Regions from separate parts of the Homo sapiens genome. Here region 1 is linked to region 2. The links come from fine-mapping of genetic effects on gene expression. A gene starts in region 2. The other region holds a variant in brackets. All regions are shown on one strand. Distances are from middle to middle.

Evidence for each region. PIP is the estimated chance that this variant, and not a neighbour inherited with it, causes the effect.
Region 1: its variant is the best candidate, but not a certain one, in a credible set for the expression of SERPINI1 in lung (TOPMed, PIP 0.53).

Annotation. Positions count from the first base shown.
Region 1 is chr3:167,585,289-167,596,433 of GRCh38, reverse strand. All of the region lies in intron 7 of WDR49 (WD repeat domain 49), which reads left to right. Among named protein-coding and RNA genes, the nearest start is that of WDR49, 63 kb to the left of the region's middle. RefSeq lists an enhancer at 2,536-2,705. The variant T/C (reference allele first, on the strand shown) is at 6,250.
Region 2 is chr3:167,729,678-167,740,822 of GRCh38, reverse strand. SERPINI1 (serpin family I member 1) reads right to left here and starts at 5,102. Exons shown (of 9, transcript NM_001122752.2): 1 at 5,000-5,102. It overlaps PDCD10 (programmed cell death 10), which reads left to right and starts at 5,931. Exons shown (of 9, transcript NM_007217.4): 1 at 5,931-6,161; 2 at 6,473-6,609. RefSeq lists an enhancer at 5,680-6,119 and a silencer at 6,170-6,299.

The DNA.
Region 1 (11,145 bases), 140 kb after region 2:
ACAGTAAACATACGTGTGCATGTGTCTTTATAGCAGCATGATTTATAGTCCTTTGGGTATATACCCAGTAATGGGATGGCTGGGTCAAATGGTATTTCTAGTTCTAGATCCCTGAGGAATCGCCACACTGACTTCCACAATGGTTGAACTAGTTTACAGTCCCACCAACAGTGTAAAAGCGTTCCTATTTCTCCACATCCTCTCCAGCACCTGTTGTTTCCTGACATTTTAATGATTGCCATTCTAACTGGTGTGAGATGGTATCTCACTGTGGTTTTGATTTGCATTTCTCTGATGGCCAGTGATGGTGAGCATTTTTTCATGTGTTTTTTGGCTGCATAAATGTCTTCTTTTGAGAAGTGTCTGTTCATGTCCTTCGCCCACTTTTTGATGGGGTTGTTTGTTTTTTTCTTGTAAATTTGTTTGAGTTCATTGTAGATTCTGGATATTAGCCCTTTGTCAGATGAGTAGGTTGCGAAAATTTTCTCCCATTTTGTAGGTTGCCTGTTCACTCTGATGGTAGTTTCTTTTGCTGTGCAGAAGCTCTTTAGTTTAATTAGATCCCATTTGTCAATCTTGGCTTTTGTTGCCATTGCTTTTGGTGTTTTAGACATGAAGTCCTTGCCCATGCCTATGTCCTGAATGGTAATGCCTAGGTTTTCTTCTAGGGTTTTTATGGTTTTAGGTCTGACGTTTAAGTCTTTAATCCATCTTGAATTGATTTTTGTATAAGGTGTAAGGAAGGGATCCAGTTTCAGCTTTCTACATATGGCTAGCCAATTTCCCCAGCACCATTTATTAAATAGGGAATCCTTTCCCCATTGCTTGTTTTTCTCAGGTTTGTCAAAGATCAGATAGTTGTAGATATGCAATGTTATTTCTGAGGGCTTTGTTCTGTTCCATTGATCTATATCTCTGTTTTGGTACCAGTACCATGTTGTTTTGGTTACTGTAGCCTTGTAGTATAGTTTGAAGTCAGGTAGTGTGATGCCTCCAGATTTGTTCTTTTGGCTTAGGACTGACTTGGCAATGCGGGCTCTTTTTTGGTTCCATATGAACTTTAAAGTAGTTTTTTCCAATTCTGTGAGGAAAGTCATTGGTAGCTTGATGGGGATGGCATTGAATCTGTAAATTATCTTGGGCAGTATGGCCATTTTCACGATATTGATTCTTCCTACCCATGAGCGTGGAATATTCTTCCATTTGTTTGTATCCTCTTTTATTTTGTTGAGCAGTGGTTTGTAGTTCTCCTTGAAGAGGTCCTTCACATCCCTTGTAAGTTAGATTCCTAAGTATTTTATTCTCTTTGAAGCAATTGTGAATGGGAGTTCACTCATGATTTGGCTCTCTGTTTGTCTGTTGTTGGTGTATAAGAATGCTTGTGATTTTTGTACATTGATTTTGTATCCTGAGACTTTGCTGAAGTTGCTTATCAGCTTAAGGAGATTTTGGGCTGAGACAATGGGGTTTTCTAGATATACAATCATGTCGTCTGCAAAGAGGGACAATTTGACTTCCTCTTTTCCTAATTGAATACCCTTTATTTCCTTCTCCTGCCTAATTGCCCTGGCCAGAACTTCCAACACTATGTTGAATAGGAGTGGTGAGAGAGGGCATCCCTGTCTTGTGCCAGTTTTCAAAGGGAATGCTTCCAGTTTTTGCCCATTCAGTATGATATTGGCTGTGGGTTTGTCATAGATAGCTCTTATTATTTTGAGATATGTCCCATCAATACCTACTTTATTGAGAGTTTTTAGCATGAAGGGTTGTTGAATTTTGTCAAAGGCCGGGTTTTGCTTTTCTACCACATGATTAGGTTGCAAATTTTCCAAACTTTTATGTTCTGCTTCCCTTTAAACATAATTTCCAACTTCAGACTATCTCTTTGGAATGAATATGACTGTATGCTTTCAGAAAAAGCCAGGTCACATCTTGAATGCTTTACTGCTTTGAAATGTCTTCTGCCAGATACCCTAAATCATCTCTCTCAAGTTCAAATTTCTACAGGTATCTAGGGCAGGGGCAAAATGCCACCAGTGTCTTTGGTAAAGAATAGGAAGTTTGACCTTTGCTCCGGTTCCCAGTAAGGTCCTCATCTCCATCTGAGACCACCTCAGCATGAACTTCATTGCCCATATCACTATGAACATTTTGGTCAAAACAATTTGACAAGTCTCTAAGAAGTCCCAAATGTTTCCACATTCTCCTGTCTTCTTATGAGCCCTTCAAACTTTTCCAACTTTTGCCCGTTACCCAGTTCCAATGTTGCTTCCACATTTCCAGGTATCTTTATAGCAGCACTCCACTTTCCCAGTGCCAATTTTCTGTATTAGTTTGTTCTCACATGGCTATAAGGAAGTACCTGAGACTGGGTAACTTATAAAGGAAAGAGGTTTCATTGGCTCATAGTTGCTCATGGCTGGGGAGACTTCAGGAAACTAAAATCATGGAAGAAGGTGAAGGGGAAGCAAGGCACATCTTACATGGTAGCAGGAGAGGCAGAACGAGAGAGGGGAACCACCGCACACTTTTAAACCATCAGATCTTGTGACAATTCCCTCACTATCATGAGAACAGCATGGGGGAACCTCCCCCATGATCCAGTCACCTACAACTAGGTCCTTCCCTCAGCACATGGGGATTACAATTTGAGATGAGATTTGGGTGGGAACACAGAGCCAACCATATCAGATAGCTACCAATAAGCCAAGACAGTGAAGACTACAATAAACACCTAACTCTTCAATGCCCAGACACCAAAGAACAGCTACTAACACCAACACCATCCAGGAAAACATGACCTCACTAAATGAACTAAATAAGGCACAATAACACATCCTGGAGAAACAGAGATATGTGACCATTCAGATGGAGAATTCAAAATAGCTGTGTTGAGAAAACTCAAAGATATTCAAGATAACACAGAGAAGGAATTCAGAATTCTATCAGATAAATTTAACAAAGACATTAACATTGTTAAAAAAATCAAGCAGAAATTCTAAAGTTGAAAAATGGAATTGACAAACTGAAGAATGTGTCAGTGTTTTAATAGCAGAATCAATCAAGCAGAAGAAGGAATTAGTGAGCTTGAAGACAGGATATTTAGAAATGCAGTCAGAGGAGGCAAAAGAAAAAAGAATGAAAATGAATGAAGCACACCTTCAAGATCTAGAAAACAGTCTCAACAAGGCAAATCTAAGAGTTATTGGACTTAAAGAGGAAGTTGAGAGAGAAACAAGGTAGAAAGTTTATTCAAAGGGATAATAACAGAGAACTTCCTAAACCTAGCGAAACATATCAATGTCCAAATACAAGAAGGCTATAGAACACCAAGCTGATTTCACCCAAAGAATACTAACTTGAGACATTTAATAATCAAACTCCCAAAGGTCAAGGATAAAGAAAGAATCCTAAGGGCAGTAAGAGAAAAGAAACAAATAACATAAAATAGAGCTTCAATATGTCTGGCAGCAAAATTTTCAGGGAAATCTTACAGGCCAGGAGAGAATAGCATATTTAAAGTTCTGAAGGAAAATAACTATATCTTGCAAAAATATCCTTCAAACATGGAGAAATAAAGACCTTACCAGACAAACAAAAGCTGAAGGATTTCATCAATACCAGACCTTCCTACAAGAAGTGCTAGAGGGAGTTCTTCAATCTGAAAGAAAGGAATGTTAATTAGCAATAAGAAATCATCTGGCTAGGAGCAGTCGCTCATGCCTGTAATCCCAGCACTTTGGGAGACTGACGTGGGAGGATCGTGAGGGCAAAAGATGGAGACCGTCCTGCCCAACATGGTGAAACCCCATCTCTACTAAAAATACAAAAATTAGCTGGGCGTGGTGGTGTGCACCTGTAGTCCCAGCTACTCAGGAAGCTGAGGCAGGAGAATCTCTTGAACCCAGGAGGTAGAGGTTTCAGTGAGCTGAGATGGTGCTATTGCACTCCAGCTTGGCGACAGAGTGAGACTCCATCTCAAAAAAAAAAAAAAAAGAAAAAGAAAAAGAAATCATCTAACGGTACAAAACTCAGTGGTAATAGTAAGTACACAAAAAAACCACAGAATATAACCCTGTAACTGTGCTGTGTAAGCTATTGTTATCTGAAGTAGAAAGATTAAATGATGAACTAATCAAAAATAACTACAATAACTTTTCAAGACATAGACAGTACAATAAGATATAAATAGAAACAACAGAAAGTTAAAAAGTTAAGGAGCATGAAGTTAAGGTATAGGGTCTTTATTAGTTTTCTTTTTGCTTGTTGGTTTGTTTATACGAATAGTGTTAAGTTGCTATCAGTTTAAAATAACGGATTATAAGATAGTATTTTCAAGCCTCATGGTAACCTCAAACTAAAAAACATACAAGGAATGAACAAAAAATACAAAGCAAGAAACTAAATCATATGACCAGTGACAATCACCTTTACTATAAGGAAGACAGGAAGGAAAGAAAGAAGGAAGAGAAGACCAGAAGACAACCAGAAAACAAATAACAAAATGGCAGAAGTAAGTCTTTACTTGTCAATAATAGCATTGAATGTTAATGGACTAAACTCTCCAATCAAACGACATAGCAGAGTGATTGGATAAAAAAAAACAAGACCCAATTATCTATTGCCTACAAGAAAGACACTTAACCTATAAAGACACACACTGACTGAAAATAAAGGAAGGAAAAATGATATTCCATGCCAGAATGGAAGAACAGGAGTCCCTATATTCATATCAGACAAAATAGATTTCAGGCCAAACCTATAAGGGACAAAGAAATCATTATATAATGATAAATGAATTAGTTCAGCAAGAGAATATAACAATTGTAAATATATGTGTACCCAAAACGGGAGCACCCAGATATATAAAGCAAATTTTATTAGACTTAAATAGAGAGATAGACCACAATACAACAATAGCTGGAGACATCAACACCTGTTTTTCAGCATTGAGAAGATCTTCCAGACAGAAAATCAACAAAGAAACATCAGACTTTGCACTATAGAAGAAATGGACCTAATAGATATTTATAGAACATTTCATCCAACTGCTGAAGAATACAAAATCTTTTTCTGACTACATGAATCATTCTCAGAGATAGACCATATGTTAGGTCATGAAACAAGTCTTAAAACATTCAAAAAATTTAAATAATATCAAGCATCTTCTCTAATCACAAGGTACTAAAACTAGACATCAATAACAAGAGTAATTTTGAAAATTGTACAAATACATGGAAATTAAACAATATTCTCCTGAATGACCAGTGTGTCAATAAAGAAACTGAGAAGGAAATTGAAAAATTACTTGAAACAAATGACAATGGAAACATGGCATACCAAAACCTATGGGATACAGTAAGAGGAGTACTAAAAGAGAAGTTTACAGCTGTCATCAAAAAAGAGAAAAAACTTCAAATAAACAACCTAATGGTGCCTCTTAAAGAATTCAAAAAACAAACCAAACCCCAAATCTGTAGAAGAAAAAATAAAGATCAGAGCAGAGATAAATGAAGTTGAAATGAAGAAAGAATACAAAGATCAATGAAATGAAAAGTTGGTTTTGGAAAAGATAAACAAAATTGACAAAACTTTAGCCAGACTAACTTAGCCAGACTAACTTTCTAGCCAGAAAAAAAAGAGAGAAAACCCAAATAAAATATAAAAGTACAGATGAAAAAGGATATATTATTACTGACACCACTGAAATTCAAATGATTATTAATGGCTACTATGAGCCACTATATGTTAATAACTTGACAAATCTGGAAGAAATGGATAAATTCCTAGACATATACGAACTACCAAGATTGAACCATAAAAATTTTCAAAACCTGAACAGACTAATAACAAGTAATGAGACTGAAGCCATAGTTAAAAGCCTCTCAACAACAAAAAGCCCAGGACCCAAGGGCTTTGCTGCTGAATTTTACCAAACATTAAAAGAAGAACTGGTACCAATCCTACTCAAACTACTCCACAAAGTAAAGGAGGAAGGAATACTTCCAAACTCATTCTACAAAACCATTATTACCCTGATACCGAAACCAGACACAGACACATCAGAAAAGAAAACCACAGGCAGATAGCCCTCATAAACATTGATGCAAAAATCCTCAACAAAATACTACCAATTCAAATTCAACAACACATTTAAAAAATCATTCATTATGACCAAGTGGGATTTATCCCAAGGTTGCAAGAATGGTTCCACATATGCAAATCAATCAATTTGATACATGATGTCAA[T/C]GGAATGAAGGACAAAAACTAAATAATCGTTCCAATTGATTCTGAAAAAGCATTTGATAAAATTCCACATCTCTTCATGATTTAAAAAACTCAAAAAGTTTTGATATAGAAGAAACATAACTCAATATAATAAAAGCCATATATAAAAGACCAACAGCTAATATCGTATTGAAATGGGAGAAAGTTGAAAGCCTCCCATCTAAGATCTGAAGAATGCCCACTATGTTATTCAATATAGTACTGTAAGTCCTAGCTAGAATAATCAGACAAGAGAAATATAAAAAGGGCATCCAAATTGGAAATGAAGAAAGCACATTATCCTTATTTGCAGATAATAACATCTTGTATTTGGAAAAACCACTCCACCAAAGAACATTAGAATGGTAAGCAAATTCAGTAAAGTAGCAGGATACAAAATCAACATAATCAGTTGCATTTCTATATGCCAACAACAATCTGAAAATCAAGAAAATAATCCCGTTTAGAATAGCTACAAATAAAATTAAATATCTAGGAATAAACTTAACCAAAAGAGTGAAGGATTTGTATGATGAAAAGTATAAAACATTAATGCAAGACATTGAAGAAGCTACAAAAATGGAAAGATATTCCATGTTCATGGTCTGGAAGAATAAATATTGTTAAAATGTCCATATTACCAAAAGCAATATACAGATTTAATGCAATCCCTATCAAAATACCAATGACATTCTTCATAGAAATAGGAAAAACAATCCTAAAATTTATGTGGAATCACAGAAGACCCAGAATAGCCAAGGCTATCCTAAGCAAACAGAATAAAAGTGAAGGAATCACACTAACTGACTTCAAATTATACTATGGAGCTACAGTAACCAAAACGTCATGACACTGGCATAAAAACAAACACATAGACCAGTGGAATAGAATGGAGAATCCAGAAATAAATCCATACATCTACAGTGAATTCATTTTAGACAGTGGTGCCAAGAACATATATTGAGGAAAAGACAGTTTCTTCAATAAATGGTGCTGGGTAAATTGAATATCTATATGCAGAAGATAATATTAGACACCTAAATCTTGTCATATACAAAAATTAAATCCAAATTGATTATAGATTTAAATCTAATACCTCAAACTATGAATCTGCTAAATAAAAACATTGGAGAAACTGTCCAGAATATTGGACTAGGCAAAAATTTCTTGAGCAATACCCCACAAGCACAGGCAACTGAAGAAAAAATGGATGAGTGGGATCACATTAAGTTAAAATGCTTCTGCGCAGCAAAGTATACAATCAATAAAGTGAAGAAACAACCCACAGAACGGGAGAAAATATTTACAAACTATCCATCTGACAAGGGATTAATAACCAGAATATACAAGGAGCTCAAACAATTCTAGGAAAAAAAATCTAACAATCTGATTAAAAATGGGCTAAATACCTGAACAGACATTTCTCAAAAAAAGACAAATGGCAAACAGGCATATGAAAAGGTGCTCGATATTATTTATTATCAGAGAAATGCAAATCAAAATTACAATGAGATATCAAATTTACAATGTTACCCCAGTTAAAAATGGCTTATATCCAAAAGACAAGCAATAACAAATGCTGGTGAGGATGTGGATAAAAGGGTATTCTCATGCATTGTTGGTAGGAATGTAAATTGGTAAAACCACTGTAATAGAGCTAAAAATTGAGCTGCCGTATGATCCAGCATTCCCACTACTAGGTATATACCCCAAAGAAAAGAAATCAGTATATCGTATAGATATCTGCACTTCCATGTTTGTTGCAGCACTGTTAACAATAGCCAAGATTAGGAAGCAACCCAAGTGTCCATCAAAAGATAAATGGATTAAGAAAATGTGGTATTTACAAACAGTAGAGTACTACTCAGTCATAAAAAAGAGTAAGATCCTGTCACTTGCAATAACATGGTTGGAACTGGAGGTCATTATGCTGAGTGAAATAAGCCAGTTAGAGAAAGACAAACTTTAGGTGTTCTCACTTATTTGTGGGAGCTAAAAATTAAAACAATTGAACTGATGGAGATAGAAGAAGAATGGTTATTAGAGGCTGGGAAGGGTAGTGGTGGGGGAGGTTGGAGAGGAAGTGGGTATGGTTAATGGGTATAAAAAATAGAAAGAATTAAGAGGACCTAGTATTTGCTAGCACAACAGAGTGACTATAGTAAAAAATAGTTTAATTGTACATTTACAATATCTAACATAATATAATTGGATTGCTTGTAACACACAGGATAAATGCTTGAGGTGATAGCTACTCCATTTACCCTGATGTGATTATTACGCAATGTATATCTGTATCAGAATATCTCATGTAATCAATAAATATATACACCTACTCTGTACCCACCAAAATAAAAAAATTAATTAGAAAAAATGAAAAAGAGGGCTCGTGTGGTGCCTCACGCTTGTAATACCAACACTTTGGGAAGCTGAGGTGGGTGGATCACTTAAGCCCAGGAGTTCAAGATCAGCCTAGGCAACATGGAAAAACCCATCTCTACAAAAAATACAAAAATTAGTGGGCATGGTGGCGCACACCTGTAGTCCCAGCTACCCGAAAGGCTGAGGTAGGGCAATCATCTAAGCCTGGTAGGCTGAGGCTGCAGTGAGGCGTGATCATGCCATTGCACTCCAGCCTGGGTGACAGAGAGGGACCCTGTCTCAAAAAAGAAAAAGTGAAAAAAAAGGTCAGTGTCTTTTCAGCTTGTATTCTTGGTATTTATCACAGTGCTTGGCACCTTGTAGTGCTTATTCAATAGTTATATGTTGACAGCTTGAAGTGAAGACATATTACTTTGAGTCTAAAGTATCAAAAAACTTGAGTGAAACCTTTTATGATGCCCTAGTTAGATTTAGCTGGCCTACTTTTTGAGATCTTTTAGCACTTTGTTTCATTTCCATTATTGAATTTAACACAATCTGATTTGGATACCGGAGCATTGTATATGTATATTGTATTTTTCATTAGATTCTGACTGCTTGAAGGTAAAGATTATTTGTTGAATTTATTTTTGTGTTTCCCAAGACCTAGAAAATATTAATGTATTAAATACATGTTAAATATAATATATGAAACAGTATAACTATCAACTAAATGATAGGATTCATAAGGTTAGGGGCAATGTCTTTCTGGAATTATACCATATATATACCAGGTCCCCAATAAATTGTAGTTAAATAAGAGAATCTTTATCAAATATAAATATGAAACAAGTATCAGATATTTTGTCATTAAGACTTCCCCGAGAGGTTTTATAACGTAAAAGCAAGTGAAAAAATGTCTTTAGAGTCACAGGTGATTATGTACAGCTATCATCAATGCTAAGACTACCTGGCCTCTTCCAAAAACAATTTATCTTTCTATTTTTGTTTTGTTTGCATTACATTATAATGAAGCTTGTCATGTTGTCTTTCATGTTAGTCTAAATCTATTTCACTTTAATAAATGCATCGTGATCTCAGTCTTTACGTCTTTACAACAAACAACAATGCATTCTGCCACCAGGGTAAGCCTCTGCTTTATTGCTGTCAAAGTCTTTTGGATATTTTATAGGACTGGGGTTAAGTTAGAAAAAATGAAAACACATTATGTTTTCAAGAGCTTTTGATTGAAACATGTTTTGGTCAATGAATTGCTGAATTAGAAGATCTATAGACAAAGCAATTTAAATCTACAAAATTTTCTCCAAAAATGATCTGAAACTTCATTTCGTTTTTGGAAATCTTCTCTATTGCTATTTTCCAGTGGTGATTAAAGAGTTCAATCGTATTTTGCTTTGAACTCCTAAACTGATTCTCTTGAGATGGCAGTCACTGGTGGTAAGGCCCTGTTGAGGGCAAGTAACTTAGTCATTTGGAGAGGAACCACCATGGGGAGTAAAAAAGATTTTTGAAGCCTATGTCAAACTCTCTGATGGAGACTGACATTCAGCCTGTGGGCCTAATTCAGCTTTTTCATTACTCCTAACTATTCTCCCCGAGGCCACTAATCCTGATTTGGTCAGCAGAAGCAAATCAGTTTGTGGCTTAATCCTTTGTTTGAGGTTCTGATTTTTCTCAGAACCTGGCTTCTATATTGTAGACCTATGGTTGGTAAGAACAATACAATCAGAATTTTGTCTTACCATTTATCTTCTTTTCTTTTTTTCCACACTGTTCCCCATCCCGACTTCCATCTATCCATCCAGAAACAAAGGATTTTCATTTAAAGTACGCCGGTAAATGGATTAATGCCCTCCTATAAAAATTGCAAATGATGAGGAAGCATGTAGTGCAAAAAGTAAATATTCCTTATGATCATTTCCCCTTCAAATCCATTTCTTTCCCAAGGAATAACTATCATCAACCCTAGACGTGTATCTTCTTATATTGTTTTGCTATATACTTACTATGTTATACATAATAATGTATTATAATAATATGTCATTATAACAAAATACAACTTTATTTAATGTTATTATATATATTATCCTTTGAGTGTGAACAAATACAGGGTAGTATTTATTATTAGTTTTTATGTAAATGGTATCATATGACACATATTTTTTCTACAATTTGCTTTTTCCTAAACAGTATCTCTTGAAGATCTTTATAGATAGACACATAGATATACATATATCTGTATTTTTTGGCTATACAGCAATTCTTAGTATGGATGGCCATAATTTAACTACTTAATCACCTGTTGATTAAAGGAGATATTGTTTCTAAGTTGTTTATCTTTGTTAGCCATGACACACACACACACACACACACACACACACACACACACACACGCACCCTTTTAAGACCTCTTAGGTTAATGTTTTTGTAATAAGTTTCTAGAAGTTATGCTATTAGATCTCAAAGGCTTTACATAAATATTGCCTATTACAGTGA
Region 2 (11,145 bases):
TTCTAGAGGCAAGGAGAGAAAAGGACCACATAAACCCCAAATAGCATCTAATGAATAAATTCATGTCTGAAGCATGCGCCCATGCACGCACACACACACGCACACAAGCGCGCGCGCAAGTTTGCAGTTAATAACAAAATTTGTTCTACTCATTTAGAAATCCAACAAGATAGCAATATTTATATTTAGCTGTAATATAAGCAACCGTTGTTGGCAGAGGGCTGAATTTGGTACTAACACAGATGTCTAAGAAAAAGTCATTTTTCTAGTTGTATTTGTTTGCAAAATGATGTTTCATTATAGATTACCAAATAGTTATCCAAATTGTTACTACTTACCAAGTATGAACTATGTAAAAGGATTCTCAAAATGAATACAAACGTCAATGAAACTCAGAGTTAGCTCTAAAGATACTAAGTATCTGGTGAGAAAGATAGTATGAACTAAGTTTACTCTACACAAGGCACAGTGCTAATCATTAAGAATAATATCAGCAAGGCATGGTGGTTCACACCTGTAATCCCAATTCTTTGGGAGACCAAGGTGAGAGAATTGTTTGAGGTCAGGAGTTTGGACCAACCTGGGCAACACAGTGAGACCCTTATCTCTATAAAAAGTTAAAATTAGCTGAGCATGGTGGTTCTTGCCTGTAGTCTTAGCTACTGGGGAGTCTGCGGTGTGAGGAGTGCTTGAGCCCAGGAGTTCAAGGTTACAGTGAACTATGATCAGGTCACTGCATTCCAGCCTGGGCGACAGAGTCAGACCCTGTCTCAGAAAAAAAAAAAGGCGGCAAAAAAAAAAAGAAAAAGGCAGGTTAATTATCAGTTCTAAGCAAGCCAATTTATATAAATCAACATGAAGGTAAAAGTAAACAGAAGATAGTTAAATATGTGCTACAATTAATTTTACTACTAAAAAACTATATACAATTAACTAGAATTGTATAGGTCTTATCATAATGAAGTAAAAATTACATTAGATTCTTAATTCTAACACCAATCAGATTAATTTGTTTCTAGGTCAAATGCAAAAAACAACTAATGACCAACTCCACACATGCTTAAACAAAATCAGTCTATTTTTTTTTTGGAAGAAATAATTAGAAAAACAGAAGAGCAAATTCAGTTTTTATAGAATGAAATATGGTTTCTACAGATAAGCTTCAACAAAGGTATAACTCCAGGGCCTTGAGGTTAAATGGTGGTTGAGCCCTGGGTTTTTCTGTCTGTGAAATTAAGACCTTAAGTGCCACCAGTTGCAGACTCCTTTACCCTCGCCTATATATCCTATCTCTGAGATGAATTTAGAAATGCTGGCACTCAAATCTGTAATGTATTTGCAGCGCACACAGTGTGAATCCAATTGTGCTCAATCAACACTTTTGCAAAGGCAAACTAGCATAAAGACATTCTCAGAAGGACTAATGTGTAAGCAATCATTCTGTGAGGTCAGCTGACTCTGTCTATCAAAGCGCAAACTGTCTCAATGTGTGCATTACAGAAGTATTGTCCAATGTCCAATGGTTCTAATTCAGTAACTGGTTACTCAATTTCTTTATGCTGAATATGACATAAAGTGCTCAGGACTAACAGGAGATAGAAAAGAAGTACATGGTCTCTAAGAGTTAATAACGTAGTTACTTAAAACACACCTTCCAAATTTTAAAGACTAAATTCTTACAGGTTTAAGATTTAAAAAAAAAAAAAAAAAAGAAACAACAAAAAAATCTCTCCCTTATTTGTGTACGTTAATTCTGATCCCAAAAGCAGTGTTTAACCTTTGGAATTTGCTTAATTAAATAAATGGGCTCTTGCTCATCTTAGTGTCTGGTTCAAGTACCTTTATTATTTTAAAGGGGCAAAACATCAGTTTAGGTATTTACTTTTTGATATTTTGTCCAAATAATGTTTCACTTAGAAGTTAGTGTATACAGGTAGGATTTTTATGGTTAATAATCCATGAATATTCAAAATCTAATGAATACCAGTTTGATTCCAGTTAAAATGGCAATTGACTGGAATCAGACTGGTATTCATTAGATTTTGAATATTTATGGGTTATAAAAGCATAAAAAAGGAAGGTTAATCATCCAAAATTTATTCCAGTAAAAATTGCCATTTTAACTGGAATCAGACTGGTATTCATTGGATTTTGAATATTCAATTTTACTTAGAAAAGTAATGTATCCCAGTATGAATACAGGCCTCTACAAATTAATGACTGGGGGAGAAAAGGTCATGGAATCATGGATTATAGGAATTTAACAAAAAATATAAAATCTTTTTTCTCTTTTGCTAAAGGTGTGTTTCTCAAGTAGTTTTCTTTATATCTATTCCCCTGTATCCTTCTTTACCAAAACCATTTGATCTTGAACCTTTAAGTCTTGCTCTTTTGTGCTGCATGCATCAGTGAATCTTCCTGTTAAAAAGAAATCCATGCTAACTTATTTTTACTCAAAAGGCTTAGAATCAGAACTCTAAAGAAAAGACCAAAGGATATGGTAATTTGAAATTAACCAAGGTTTTTGGCTAAAGAACAATCATCCCCAGAGCAATTTCCATTCAAGAGAGACATTCTGCACTCTGTTGCTTTTCCTTTCTCATCATACATATTCACTGATAGCCATACACAAATAGTAAAATTAAAGAGCAAAATAAGTAATATGCTTATAACATGGGTAGCATTTTACACAGAATTATAAACTGCCATATAACGAACGTTTTCAACACCAATCAAGAAAAATCTTCAGATTACCTGAGATTGAATGTGAATATTAACTAACATGAATCAAGAGTGCAAGGTAAAAAATAAATGCCATATATTTCCAATGATATTCTCTCATATAAAAACATGGTCTTTTTTCAAATGATATTGAAACCCAATCTCTTTTACTGACACAGTAAAAAGGATCCAAATCTTGGAAACAGGTGAAAAAAATCAGTACTTTAATACCACAAACTCATTCATTCCTAATCAGATTCTATCCTTTACCGTGTCTCAGAGCAGAAGACCTATAAAGAGCTGAGATTCAAAGTATATCTTAATTTCAACTGTTTAGATATTTATCTTCTATCCATTTGCTTGCTTATTAACTGTTTCCCAATAAAACTCTTTCAAACAGATCTTTTAATAAAGGCTCGGAAAGAATTTCATTGGTAGTATTATAATTATTACATAGGGGAAATAACCCAGCGACAGCAATTATTCAGTTTTACAAAATGAATTAGTAGTAGGGTCTGAGAAAGAATCTAAGACTGATTCAAGACAATCCACTTAATCACAAATAACAAGGGCAAACACAGTCTTTTCCATGTGTCACCCTAATACCCACTTTTTTTTTTACCCCCAAAATCATTTTCACAGGGCCATATCAGCTATGTGAATTAATAGATTCTCCAGTGCTGTAGCAAAGATAAAACCTGATCCTTATAGTGGTTAAGTTTAGCAGCTACTGTTGCTTTTTCTTTCTTCTAAGCTCTTTGCTGTTTTTGATACTTAGCTGATTTGCTTAGGGGTAATTAAAAAGCAGCTGTTTTTCTATGATCTATCTGTCTATATATTTCTATGGTATGTGAGAGTGTGGGAGGGAAGAGTATACACACTGAAAAGTCACTTAGGCTTATCGGTAGTAGCACTCAGTAGGACTGAACTTTAATCTGGGAAGAGAATTCATTTGAGCCATTTCTTTTCAAAAAGAAATTTGGGATGCATTACAAAAATAAAATTTAAAATCCCGAGAACTCAGGAAAGCATAGAAATAGGAGAAAACAAGACAATTACTCCATTTTATTGACCCTGGTTATTAAAAAAAAACATAAAGTATTGAGACAGACTCTGAAATATGCAACTGTCACAATGAAAGCATTTCAGAGCAAAATTTGCTGCAATATGCTACTATGATTAAAAGCCATGTAATCTGGGAACCTCTGTAACAAAATGAAAATGAACTAGGAAAATAGCTTCTTACTACTTCTCTAAAAATAAAAGGCTGTAATTTTGTCATAATTACACAAAGGTAGGTGAGACTTTCATCTTTACCCAGCATTACAACTTATTTCCATCCATAGGTATTACAATTAACGTTGCTTTGAATGCACATATAGTTTAATACCGAGAATAAACTATTATTTTATGACACTACATGTGTTTTAAACTGAACCCACTATCATAACACATATTAAGGGTAGTCCTTCAGCACATACTCTCTACCCAGAGAAAAGATTCCCACACAGCTTTCCATGTACTCGTTTTTAAAATGTACACATATTATCGGACACAAATGAGAAACTAACGAGCAGCAGTGAGGTACACCATATGTTTCCATTGTAGGCTGAATCCAGGTCTTTGTTCCAATATTCCAGAGCCACTGGGAAGAAAGCTAACTATCCATTCATTAAAATTCATTTTTACATTATTGCTGGCAAAAGTTATACTTTTGATAGATTAAGTCAGAGCCCATCCTATCCTGACTATTCCTGCCTGCACTTGCTTCTTTAATACGGATTTCTTGCAATTCTAGGAAACTGCAAAATAACCACCCTGGATAACAGGTCGGTAGCAGGACAATCTGATAAACCAACGTAAAGGGTAGACACTGAAGAAGAATGCAAAGTTATTTTCCTAGTGAAATAGTTCAGAAGTTATTCTATATCAATAGCAAAATTTTTGCTTTTTATAGGCTACGCACCTATAACATCCACCAGATAACATCCACCTCGTCCTCAATTAGCAGGATTTTTCTCAATCTTCAGATCTCCCAGAACAGTTTTACTGGTGCAACTCAAACCAAAAACACTAACCACGCCCTTTATACCCAGAGTCAAGCTTCCTTTTGCTTTTTTGCCCTTAAAGTCGAAAAATGTAAATCTTTCACCCGAGAGGTTTTGCACCGGTTTCCTAACCCAACGCGGACTCTTTTAGCTGTGTCTTGATGTAATTCCTATTGGAAGACGTTTTCTCCAGGGCAGTGCAGACGCCCCGAAGAAGGACCCACGCTTACCTCCCACACACCTGCAACCCCTGACGGGATGCTGGAGCTTGTGCTCGGCGGACTGTGCTCCGCTCCGCTCTCGTTCCTGCTTTCGTCTCTCCCGGGAAACTACAGTCCAGACTGCGCCTCTGGCTTCTACAGGGACCCAAGCTCCGCCTCTCCCTCCTCTAGTTGGCGAATTTGGCAGCTGTTGCTCCTCCCCCTGCTGTTTCTGCAGCTGCCCGGACCGGAGGCAGCGGAAAGCAGCTGCCCTGGTACCTTTCCGCTCCCTGCACTTCTGCAGCTGCTCTGCCACTTCCACTCCCGTGGGGGTCCCTCTCCCCTCCTCTGTGGCTCACACCTGGAGCGGCCTCCTGCCCCACCCAGGCGTCTCTGCTGGGAGCCCCGGCTCAGCCTATCCTTCCCCGACCTGTGTGTCCGGATGCCCGGTGTGCCTGGGGCTTAGCTGCTCTCAGGGAAGCTGCCCCTCTGCCCAGTGCAAGTCCCCACACCAAGCCCTCCCTTCACCTGGGCGATTTCCCCGAGGCTTCCTCTCCACCCACACGGCATACTCAGCCCGACAGCCCCAGGATCCCCACCACAGGCCCCTCACCCCCTTCCTTCCTCTGCTCTGTCAGCCCGCCCCCTCAATGGGTGAGGCGCCTGCGGGGCCTACTCCGCACCCTGATTGGCGCAGGTGAGGGCTTGCCCCGCCCTTCCTCTCCTTTCCGTGCACCATCTCTCTTCATCTCACCTCCTCCCGCAAAGGCAGGGAATTCTCCTACTATTGGCTAGAAGTGTCACCACCCATCGCCTCAGGATCCCCCGCATGGCCTGCCGGGAAGTGTAGTCTTCCGATTGCAGGAATTGCGGACAACGCCGGCGAGCGGGACTACGAGTCCCCATAAGCCTCTGCACGACTCCGGCTGGGCAGGATTCCGGACAACGCCTGGTTCCTCTTGGGTCCTTCCGGCGTCGCCGGAGTGAATTGATCCGGGAGTTGAAGAGGGCTGCAAGGTGGGAAGTGAAGTCAGTGCCTCAGTTGCTGGTAAGGTGTAGCTGTTCTGTCCCAGTCCCCGTAGCTCTGCACCGAGCAGAAGAGGTCTAGGGTCACGCAGGGGCCATGGCTGAGGCACTTGGGCTTGGTTCTGGCAGGCGGAGCGGACGGGGCTGAGAGCGGGGCCCTACGGGCGTAAGCGAGGTTACCCTACGCGAGTGGCGTAAAGCGGGTTTGTAAATGCCGCCTGCCGGCTTGGGCCCGAACGCCTCCAGGAAGTCTCCTCTAGGTGGGGGCGGGAGGGGAAGGGCGAGGTTGGCCCCTGGTGCCCCGGGAGAGGGGACAGGGCGGATGTGCCTGGGGTGGGGTCCTTTGAAGGTGTGGCTTCGGACCGAGAGGTGAGGCTGCTGTTTTCCCCCTGCTTTGTAAGTAAGAGAAAAGGGAGGAGGAAGGAAAGGGTGCTTGGGAGTCGGCTCTTGGGGGTGACTCGGGTTATGCCCTTTGAGGGAAGAGGAGCACTGGAAGAAGGAAGAGACAAATGTTGGGGTCTACGGATTCAGTTCCAGTTTAATGATGTGGCCCTCTAAGGAGATAATTTTGCCTTAAACAGAAAGACTTGACCCTCTTAGGTGTCATACCTAAGGTATGTTTTTACTCCTTTACTGCTTTCAGAGCGCTTTCATTTTGGGATGCTGATGAGGAAACCGAGGGATTATATGACGTGCCCAAGGTCACACACGTAGGGACAGACTTTCTGAATCTAGTTCGGTTCGAGTCCAGCTTTAGAGTAGGGACGTTGGTTGTGCTTTTTGAAAAGGGTGGAGGAAGTTACAAAGTAAATGTATTTTATATAGTATATCTAAGAAGCCATTGTGAGATAAAAAGTTGTTTCTTGAACCGGAGTGAAATTCCTCAATAAAGGAAAGATCCTTTTGGAAAAAATAAAAATGGCCAGTTTCAACTTTTACAGATTTTTCCCCTTTTTTTAGGGGTGTATTAAATGATAGACTCTACTCTCACAGTTCATTTTTACGGGTAGGTAATAGGATGGGAGAACAACAGTTAAACAATATATCCCATCCTTAGAAGAATATTCTTTTCTTTTTCTACCTTAGGACTGTTTTTACTCTCATTTTGTAAAACTGATAATAGTGGGATTGGAATTCTTTCACAAAACTACACTTTTTTCAAATAATGTAGCGTTAGGAGAGTTTAGTGTGCCCATTACTAGAAAAGAAGGTATTTTGCATTTCTTGGAGGTAACATCGTCTTTTTTGAGACTTTACTTTTCCCCCATTTTCTTGACTCTGGGCTGTATTTGTGTGTGTGTCTGCAAATAATAAAATTGGGCTCTTGCATATTTTTATTTTTCTTAGCATCAACTGTGACTTTCAATTCATTCTTACTTTACATTGAAGAATGAAAAAACAGTACACGTATAGTTCATATCTTGCAGAAAGTAGTGCCTTTATGCAAGTCTTATCCTCTATAATGATTATGACCAGTTATAGCTCATGACTATTATTATTGGATAAGTTTTTAATAGAATTGTTAGAGTATGTTCATTGATGGCAGAATTTATTTGTGATAACTTTATATCCATACAGGTTAGCATGTAATAAATCATGGCTTACTCTTAACATGTAATAAATCATAGCTTACTGTTTTATATATAAGTTGATCATCAGACTATGCTGAATTTTGAATGTACTCTGCAGTTACTATATTATCAACAATGTGCTTCACTTTTTAATGGAAAAACATTTTTTCGGAACAGAGGTATTATCTTCCCTGATGGTTGAAATTAAGATGGTCTGGAAATTAATACGATTTTTAAAATAGAAAAAGTATGATACTATAGAATGAAGTAAAATCAGGAATAATGTACCATAAGTAATGTAGTACACAGACAAGGAAGACCCAGTTAAACAAATGGAAAATTATGTGGTGATAACTGACTTTGTGCTGGATTAAGAAAGGTGCAGTGATGTAAGTAGACCGTAAACTGAACATGAGTCAGTGATGGTAAAGCAAGAATATTAATCTGTTTTCTAGATGACAATGTAGGTATTTGCCTTTTGTTGAAGGAGGTATGAAATAAGTTCTAACCTTTGGCATGTAACTCTGTCATTATGGAAAGAGCTTTTGAACTATGAGGAAATTTTGGAAATTAGTTAATGTAATGCATTTGTTCAGTGTGTTTTAGATTTTGTTCTTGGTTCATTTCTGCCACTACTCTTTATCTCTGAGGCCAATTATAGTTTTGATATTTCTTCTATTCGGATGGTGGATTAATGTTTGTATTGTTGTTATCATCTTTCAGTCACATGCTGCGGTACTGTTGTCACTTTAGATCTCTGCACGTTGGATAATTAGGAGTTCACAGAGTTATGTGTACACGTGGTTTGCAGCTCACCAGTGTCTGCATTTCTTCTCATTTTGAACTTTGCAGGAGCCTTATGTCAGCTTTTGGACATTATTTCTTAGAGGACTTGGGATGTCTTCCGTATATTATACATCTGTCTGTTTCTCTTAAGGATGTAAGGTCTGTAAGAATAGGGGCTGTTTATTATTGTAGTCTGAGTAGGTAAGATAATATTTACAAAGAGAATGAAGAGGCTCAAGTTGGTTAAGTGACTTGTAACTGGTGGGAGTAAGACAAAATCGAGATCTTCTGACTACAGATCTTTAATATTTTGGAGTAAAGACTTAGTTCCCTTAGATTATTTACATGAGAAGAAGACTTAACGTGACTTAAATATTCAAATACTATTACCTTCTTACTCTGTTTAACACTAAAAATTTATCTCTTCTCCTATCCAGCTCTCCGTCCTTATCTCCAGCCTTTCTCATTTACCATGCCTTTCAGTTACTACATACATAAGCTGCTTCCTGACTTGGTGGCCTTTACATATTCCGTCTCACTCCTTGGACTGTTCCCCTCACGCCTACCTAAATGTGGCCACCTGGTAGTCAGTTTTCACGTCTCAATTTAAATATCGTTCGTCAGGGGAGCCTTGCCCGCCTTCCCAAAATCAGAATAGGTTTCCGCCATGTATTCACCATACTCTGTACTCCTTTGTGGCATCATCATAATAGAAACTTAATTATTTCTGTATTTATTTGACAAATACTGTCTCCTCACTGGACTATAAGCTCCCTGAGCAGGGCCCTCTCATTTGTCATGTTTTACCCCACTACTTACGCAGTACCTGGCACATTGTAAGGGTTCAGTAAATATTTGCTGAATGAATGAAGGAGTGTATTCATGCACAGTGCTTCCAGCACTTCTCTGGGGACAGAAATAGAGAAATGAATAAAGCGGATATGCTTTCTGGATTGAAGTATATAAGAACTTTCAAATGAGCCATAATGCTTAGGCAATTTAGGTTATATGTAAAGGAGTCATTGACAGAATTTTAATATAAATTGTGGAAAAATGTTTGTTCTTTTTGGAGGTCTCTGAAATCAGGATTAATTTTCTAAGTGGAAATGATAAAGGAATCACTTTCATTTGCCGCAGAATTGCTGTGTAACACAGCATTTTAGAGACTTATCACTGTCCTGCTTTTTGCAAGCGATATTCATTATAACAAAATATAGACATGGAAGAAACTTCTAATGGACTCTTCTTCCCTAATGTTGTCTCGTTTTGCCCTAAAAACCTTTATTTCCTCTAGGTAGTAGTATTAATACTGTTTTATAGCTGAAGACATCAAGAAAATAAGTAAATTTACTTATTAAACTAAAAAAAGTTTAATTAAATTGCTAGAGTTTCCAGAACGTTGGTACTGGAACCATGGTTAGAATCTGGATCTATCTCCGTATTCTAGAATCCATAATTTTTTCTTTTTCTTTGCTTTTTTGTTTTGTTTCTTGCTTTTTAACCTTGCTATCTTCCTATGAATTATACCTTTAATATCACTTGATTTAGACAAGGTGGCTTTGTAAAATTGAGTAGTTTTTGTTTCAAAGGAACTTATATTTTGGGTTTCCTGAAAATTTTTCTAATACTTTTCTAATCTTATTTGCTTTATAGCTGGAGACTTAAGCATAAAAAGATTATTTTTAAAACATACAAACTGAATTTTAGGGATAAATTGTGTTAGGTTTTGGTCTTGGAAACAAGTTCTGCAGTCATTTGTAGTACCACGGTATGGCATAGAGTAAGGTCAACAGCCCTGAGTTTCTGTAGCCTTGTATGCCTTCATGGATTTACCAGTTTACTCTTCCACAAGATCTTGTCAAAAAGAGATTGCTGATAATTTGGCTTTAAAATTTGGTAATACTATCCATTTTATTATTAAAAACAAGTCTTTGCTAAATCCTAAACTTACTTTTTAAAAAGTCAGTGTTGATGTTACTTGAATCTTGGATAAAATTTTCATATTTACCTAGCATAACCAGTATGTGGAGGATAAAACTGAAATACTGCTTTTTATATGTTGTTGGATAATTAATATCATTATGATAGGTGTTACTAAGAATTTTAAGCCACTTACATGATAAGTAATTTTTTCCATAATATAAACTGTAAAAGTGATTTAGAAGTTAAATGTCATTGTTATCTATGTTATTGCATTTGAAATATTATAGTAAGCTGCAGTGTTAGAGGGTTATGCTTTAGGGACACACACACACACACAATGCAAAAAATGAAAGCACATTTATTATAGCAATTAGAAATAATTTATGTGCTGAAAGATAAACACTGTGGTTTGATGGTTCATTTTTGTCTGTATGAAGATGGTAATTTCAATTTTGTCATTTAAGCTACAAAATTTAAATGTGTCTTAAGTGTATTATATTACACTTATTTTTCAAGCTCACCCTTACATTTTTGGTTATGTATAACCATTTTTAAAATCACCCAAAAGTGATTTTCTGCTGTTCAGTTTCATTCTTATACAGTTGATAGAATCCAGGTTGCCTATAGGGTTAAAAGAAAAAGAAAAGAATTTTATTAACAAGCTTATGAACTATTGGGTAACAGCAGTGGAACATGTTAAGTGGTAGTCACTAACATATACTTAGGCTGGTCCCTTGGGAATAAGTTTACCAGAGGTTAGTCTAAATAATGACTTTTTGATTCATTTACTTATTGAATGCATATTACTTGTGAAATTGCCTTAAACCTTCTTTGGAATGAACTGGAACCTAATATAATAGCTAGCATTTA